Linked DNA regions of Homo sapiens. The protein of the gene in region 1 purifies or fractionates together with the protein of each later gene. This does not show direct contact. Each region holds a gene or a part of one and is shown on either strand. Other genes may lie near its edges.

What was found.
Region 2: the proteins of SOD2 (region 1) and ALDH7A1 fractionate together in Homo sapiens (co-fractionation; one large-scale study listed by BioGRID). This does not show direct contact.

Annotation. Positions count from the first base shown.
Region 1 is NC_000006.12:159,691,118-159,694,869, forward strand, and holds the start of SOD2 (superoxide dismutase [Mn], mitochondrial isoform A precursor), read right to left. Parts: upstream 2,125-3,752; 5' UTR 2,051-2,124; coding exon 2,028-2,050; intron 1,747-2,027; coding exon 1,544-1,746; coding exon of another isoform or gene 1,347-1,543; exon of another isoform or gene 1-1,346. UniProt on the Homo sapiens protein: Destroys superoxide anion radicals which are normally produced within the cells and which are toxic to biological systems.
Region 2 is NC_000005.10:126,550,220-126,553,871, forward strand, and holds part of ALDH7A1 (alpha-aminoadipic semialdehyde dehydrogenase isoform 1 precursor), read right to left. Parts: intron 3,180-3,652; exon of another isoform or gene 3,083-3,179; intron 1,919-3,082; coding exon 1,802-1,918; intron 75-1,801; coding exon 1-74.

The DNA.
Region 1 (3,752 bases):
GTTGTATTACATAAGTAAGGCTCTGATTCCACAAGTAAAGGACTGAAATTAAGTTGTTTTTAAAATACTGAAGAGAAAGGTTCCTGGTGTCAGATGTTGCCTTACAGGAAGTACTTTCACAACTGGGGTATTCCCCAGTCTCTCCCCATTACATGTTTCCCAAATTTGTTATTTCCTAAATCACGGGGCCTTTTCCCGTAATTCAAGGTTCGTCTGTCTCAAGTAAATCTTCCAGAATGTGGTAACTTCCTCCTCTTTTAATCATTTACTTCAAACACAATCAGGCTGAAATACTGCATTTTTCCACTAGATGCCTCCAGTCAACAAGATGTGACTGTCTAAAAATTACTCAACAAATTTCATAACCCCGAAATTCAAAACATTTAAGGAAAAGTAAACATTTTTTACTACGTAGCTTACCAAGCAATACAGAGAGTCTAAAAAACATGACTATCGATTATCTTCCTTGTGCAAACCACTAACGAATAAATTAAAAAGACAATACTATTTTGTAAAAAACGTTAAAACATAACATTCCCATACACACCCCCAAAAGGCACAGACTCAAAAAGTCCACATACCCCTGGTTTTATCAACCGAGCTCTTGAGAAAAAAAAAAAAAGTTAACAACATATATTTTAATTGCATTACAAATATGAGTAAATAGTAAATAAAAACAAGCCTGTTTCAGTTTCCCACTAAAGGGCTATTTTCCTTGTGAACTTTGACCCCTAAGGGAAATCAAGAAAAGTATCAAGTCTAAAGATCCTGAACTGTTCCACAGTTAGGTTACTGCTTTTTTGGTAACGCACACCACAACGGTGTGCCTCCTCCTCTCCCACCTGAAGTCAAGTGGGCTCAGTGAAGTTTCACCTGCAGGGTAGCTGGGGATGCAGGGAGTCTCCAAGTCCTAGGCTGGAGTCCCGACCCCGTTTGCTCTCAGGAAGATGACAAGGACCATGGTTCCTAGCACGGAGTAGTGTCCTCCTGTCTCCCACCTTCAGTGTGACCTGGCAGTAAGACACCACTCCCACTTCTATCAGGAGGTGACCCTGACACTCAGAGACACCTGCGGACCCGATGATGTCTGGCCACCAGTGGACAGGCGCTCTCAGCCCTCCTGCAAACGGCTGGCACACCTACCTGAGAGACCAAACATTTCCCCAAAGCACATTATACAACAAGAACAATTTCAATTTGCAAAAAAAACGAGTGACACAGTAGAGCTTTCTTTTCAGGCCCTACAATTCACCAGTGCTGGCAATATGTGTAACGGAATGTGGCTCACAACAGTAAGGCAAGCTCCTTCGCAGGACCCCAAGTTCCCTGAGATGACAGAAGTGTGTTCAAACCCATCGAGGCACTCCTTCTACAATGAGGTAGACCATGTGTTTAAAAGAGAGACTATCGTGCCTGGAAAACTCGGAACCGGTACAAATACGAAGCGAGTTCTCCTCCACGGAGAGGCCCGTCCGTATGGGGCCTGGCTCCCTGGGGTCGCCTCTGCCGGGGACTGCCTCCCGCCGCTCAGCCTGGAACCTACCCTTGGCCAACGCCTCCTGGTACTTCTCCTCGGTGACGTTCAGGTTGTTCACGTAGGCCGCGTGGTGCTTGCTGTGGTGCAGCTGCATGATCTGCGCGTTGATGTGAGGTTCCAGGGCGCCGTAGTCGTAGGGCAGGTCGGGGAGGCTGTGCTTCTGCCTGGAGCCCAGATACCCCAAAACCGGAGCCAGCTGCCTGCTGGTGCTGAAGACGAGAAAGCACAGCCCGGTCAGTCAGCGCCGCGGGACCGTCTACGCAGGCTGGGCTGCCGAGGAACGGCAGCGCGCGGCGTCCCCCGAGTCCCCGCGTCCCCTCCCTGCGGATCCCCGCTCCAGCCGCCGCGCCGGGCACTCCCGGGAGAACCGCCTGCAGGTGCCCCGGTCCCGCCAGGCCCGGTGCGGCCACTGTCGCCATTGCCGCGGAGGCCCTGCCCGCCGCGAGCCCCTTCGCCCTTGGGGCCGTGACCGGGTCCCCTTTCTTCTCACCCGCACACTGCCCGGCTCAACATGCTGCTAGTGCTGGTGCTACCGCTGATGCCGCCGATCTGCTGAAGCCGCTGCCGAAGCCACCACAGCCACGAGTGCCGCTCCTGCGCCGCCCGCGGGCCTTAAGAAAGCGCGGGGAGCAGGGCCGCGACCCCAGCTGCGCCGCAAGGGCACCGCCGCCCCGCCCCCCCCCCCCGCGGGCCCCGCCCCGCGCCCGCCGCGCCCAACCCCGGGGGTGCCCTGCGTGCCTGTCCCGCCCGCCCGCGCTTGCCGTACACCCCGCGCCCAGGGCACGGGAGAAAGGAGGCTGCAGGCTAGCCTCGGCCTCGGCAACCTCGCTGCCTGTCTGCCGTACTTGAGTGGCGCGCGGCCGAAGGGAGGCGGCCCCTGCCCCCGTGGAGTTGGTACGGCCCGAAGGCCCTGCCTCCGGCTCCGCCCCTGAGGGTGCCGGCGGGGATCTGGCTGCACTAGGCGGCTGCGGCGCCTGCCCCTGAGTTTTGGTTGCGCTGCCGGGGGGCCGCGGGGTCCAGAGGCCTCACTGCAAAAAGACATTCATACCCTCCCAGGGCCCCCGTGGCCGTTCCTAGGGAAGACGGGGCCTAGCTGCTGGTCAGCGCCGCCCAGCCGGCCTATGAGCTGAGGGTAGAGCCAGCGCCCTTCCAACCCGTATTCAGTACTCTTGCGCCGTACCCTTGCTTTGCAAGTAAGCCGACCTTGGGACCTATTCCAGGACAGGAGGCACACAGACTTTGTCCCCACCGGCTGCCTAAGAACAGTTCTTGGACACCCACGACGTGCCCGAGACTGCAGGCAGGATTTGCACACATTTATCTTTATTTTTACCCCTAGGGTTGGTATTATTGATTCTAGTAATAGTGAAATCCTTTGAGGTTAAGCAGCTTCTCCTGGGCACAGTTAACTGAGTCAGGACTAGTTCCCACCTTCCTCACTACTAAGCCCTGGCAGTCATGTTTTGTGTGTTTACAGTAACTCTGTGAACCAACTGTTCAGGATAACATAAAAGGACAACAGAGGATTCTTTCCTGCGCTGTCTTGTAGCCTAGTAAGCTGTTAAGTATCAAGTGCTCTCTCAACAGTTAAACAACAATCCTGAATGGTGTGAATCTTCCATGTGTAGAGGTTAGGAAATCTACACTGCCATTGGCGGGAGTTGCCCCTTTATTGAAAAGAATATGATGGAAGGTAGCAGGTGCTGAACCGTTTCCGTTGCTTCTTGCAACCCCCGTACAGCCCTCCGAAGGATGACTAGGCTTCCGGTAAGTGGAATGGGAAAACAGTCAGGCGAAGAGGAACCACCTGAACTTGGCTTCACAACAGGAAGGGCTGGGCTTGTTTACAGACGTCAGAAGAATGTAACTAGGGCTACGTGTTGGGGTGAAAAAGGAAATTCAGGCTGGGACCAGGTTATAGATACTCTTATTTTTTTAATTTATTATTTATTTATTTTTGAGACACAGCCTCGCTCTGTCGCTCAGGCTGGAGTACTGTGTCGCGATGTCGGCTCACTGGAACCTCTGCCTCCCGGGTTCAAGCGATTCTCCTGCCTCAGCCTCCCGAGTAGCTGGAATTACAGGCGTGCACCTCCACGCCCCACTATTTTTTTTTTTTTTGTATTTTTGGTAGAGACGGGGTTTCACTATGTTGGTCAGGATGGTCTCGAACGCCTGACCTCAAGTGATCTGCCCGCCTCGGCCTTCCAAAGTG
Region 2 (3,652 bases), on another chromosome or scaffold:
AGATCTTTGGTAAAGATGCTACTTGAAAGTCCCTGTTTTACTTCATTATTCCATGCAAAGACCTCTTCTTCATTCTAAAAGGAGAGACATTGGAAGCTGTAAGATGTTATAGTGTTCAAGTCAAAGTTCACTGACATTAAACTCATTTCCTGAAGTGTACCAGTATAATTTCAGTGTACAAAAGGAAACCAAAGAGTCAAGTTTACTCACTCTGTTTCTCTTATAATTCAGATCATTGATAATAAGTAAAAAATTTTGGGATTTTTCCCCTAATTATCAGAAACAAATATTAACACATTCTTCCTTTCATTCAAGCTACTACATATAATAGCTAATATCTATTGAGCTCTTACGTGTGTAACACACCAATCTAAGCACTTAACATGCATTTAGTTATTTAATCCTCATCCTATAACACAGGTTTCCTACTACCTCCCAATTTACAGATTGGGCAACTGAGGCCTACAGAGACTAATTTGCTCAAGAGCTCACACAGCCTCATAATGTACACAAACACATTACAAAACACAAAATTATATTCTCTAGTCCCCATACGTGAAACAATGATAGGCAATTTAAAGCAAGAAATAAAGAAGCAATGATGTAATTGCAACAAGATGCAATTCTCACTATTATTTTACTGTTAATAATGGTACATTCAAATATTGATTCAATCTCTGCAGTCTCAAAATTAATCCTAAATATTTACTGGCGAGGCTAGGGCCCGTCTCAAGCTAGGGAATGAGATCTTCTAATTTATCCACCTGTGTGGGTTTTTTGGGTTTTATTTATTTGTTTGTTTTAGAGACAGGATCTCTTCCCACCTCAGCCTCCCGAGTAGCTAGGACTATAGGTACATACAACACCTGGCTAATTTTTTAATTTTTTTGTACAGACAAGGTCTCACTGTGTTGGTCAGGCTGGTCTTGAGCACCTGGCCTCAAGTGATCCTCCCAAAGCACTGAGATTACAAGCATGAGCCATTGTGCCCAGCTTCTTCACCTATTAAAACCTTTACAGTTTGAGATCAAGATATGAGATCAGGGAAAACAAAACAAAACTCCGCAGCCTGTCCTCTGCTGGAGTTTATAACTATAGGTCTTTTTTTTTTTTGAGATGGAGTCTCACTCTGTTGCCCAGGCTGGAGTGCAATGGTGCGATCTCGGCTCACTGCAACCTCAGCCTCCTGGGTTCAAGTGATTCTCCTGCCTCAGCCTCTCAGGTAGCTGGTATTACAGATTACAGGCGCCCAACACCACGCCTGGCTAATTTTTTTGTTTTTTAGTAGAGACGGGGTTTCACCATGTTGGCCAGGCTGGTCTCGAACTCCTGACCTCAGGTGATCTGCCTGCCTCACCCTCCCAAAGTGCTGGGATTACAGGTGTGAGCCACCGTGCCTGGCCAACTATAGGTCTTTGTATTACCCCCACATGTTCTCATTTTGTCTGCTGACATGTTCACAGCACTCAGGCTATCAAACTATCCAGTACCACGGTTCAGGAGAAGGTGACTCTATGGCCTACACAGCCCAGGATTAAGATGACACAGGAAATGAGGACCACACACTTCATAAACTCCAACACTGGTCCACTACCCAATCTGGTTTCCCTGGCAGCTAGCTTGGCATGCTATAGAGTTTTAAAGTGTTTATCTCATATTTTATCCTGAACCTTCATATATCTACTATTCAGATTACTTTCTAAAACCCTCTTAAAGGTTCATCCAGTGAAATTTAATCCACCATCATTTTCCTCTTATCATTTATTTCAACATCAGGCTAGCGAACAGAATGCATTTTTACCTTGAATTTAAAGACATAGAGAATCGGAGCAAAAGTCTCTGTGTGTGCAATGGACGCATCGTGGCCAAGACCTGTCACAATTGTCGGTTCTACATAATTTCCAGGGCGATCCATAACCTAATGCAGAGAAATGAAATAAAAAGAATGAAAGCATTTTGTTTTCTAGGACTTGGGGTCAGAGGATGCAATCTTTGCCTACATTTATAAAGAAAAAAATTAGCATCATTTATAGGTGAATTATTTCTCCAAAATAACTTCCAATCATGAAAGAAAATTCTCTCTTCCTGATATTGGTTCTAACTTAGTTGGTCAGAGAAAAATGGAAATAAGGAGTCAGGCAGGGATAGAGAGCCATGCCATGTGACACAACCAAGTTATGTTGAACAAACACTGCTGCAAGCGGTTATTTTCACTCAGCCTGTAGTGCAATGGCTTGATCTCAGCTCACTGCAACCTCCGTCTCCCGGGTTCAAGCCATCCTCCCACCTCAGCCTCCCAAGTAACTGGGACTACAGGCATGCACCACCATGCCCAGCTAAATTTTTTTTGTATTTTTAGTAGAGACCAGGTTTCACCATTTTGGCCAGGCTGGTCTTGAACTTCTGACCTCAAGTGATCCACCTGCCTCAGCCTCCCAGAGTGCTGGGATTACAGGTGTGAGTCAACATGCCCGGCCACAAACAAATCTTTATATGTGGGGGGTTTTTTGTTTTTGATTTTTTTTTTTTATTATTTGGTTTTTTGTTTTTGATTTGGTCTTGCTTTGTTGTCCAAGCTGCAGTGCAGTGACATCATCATGACTCATTGCAGCCTCGAACTTGTGGGCTCAAGCAATCCTCCCACCTCAGCCTCCCAAGTAGCTAGCACTACATGTGCATGCCACCATACTCAGCTAATTTTTTTTTGAGACAGGGTCTCACTATGTTGTCCAGGTGGGTCTTGAATTCCTGGCCTCAAGCAATCCTCCCACCACAGCCTCCCAAAGTGCTGAGATTGCAGGTGTGAGCCACTGCACCTGGCAATATGTGTTAATTTCTTTTTTAATGCTTATGATATGTATTTTTTTATTCCTTGCCTTAACTGACTTTTTAAAATAACCAATAAATAGATTATAATTGCTCTGAATACAAAGTCTCCTACTGTACTTGAAAAGGAATTTTCCTTTCCATACAAATATTAAGGACCCAATTCAAAAGCAACCATGACTCCGTTTCTTCTATGTCCTTCCAGAAATGTCCCATGCATTTTCTGCTGTCTTTTTTTAAAATATGGAATACTTTTTAAAATACGGATATGAATTTGCATATCATCATTGTGCATAAGCCATGCTAATCTTCTCTGTATCTTTCCAATTTTAGTATATGTGCTGCCAAAGCAAGCATTGTTGTCATTCTTTAAAACGTGTATTTCTGGCTGGGCACGGTGGCTCACGCCTGTAATCCCAGCACTTTGGGAGGCCAAGGACAGTGGATCACGAAGTCAGAAGTTCCAGACCAGCCTGGCCAACATGGTGAAACCCCTTCTCTACTAAAAATACAAAAATTAGCTGGGCATGGTAATGGGTGCCTGTAATCCCAGCTACTCGGGAGGCTGAGACAGGAGAATCGCTTGAACCTGGGAGGCGAGGTTGCAGTGAGCTGAGATCACGCCACTGCACTCCAGCCTGGGCAACAGAGCAAGACGCAGGAGCCTGAGGTGGGAGGATTGCTTTAGTCCAGGAGGAAGAGGGTGCAGTGAGCTGAGATCGTGCACCACTGCACTCCAGCCTAGGTGGCAGAGCAAGACCCTGTCACAAAAACAAACAGAGCCAAGTGTGGTGGTTCATGCCTGTAATCCCAACACCTTAGGAGG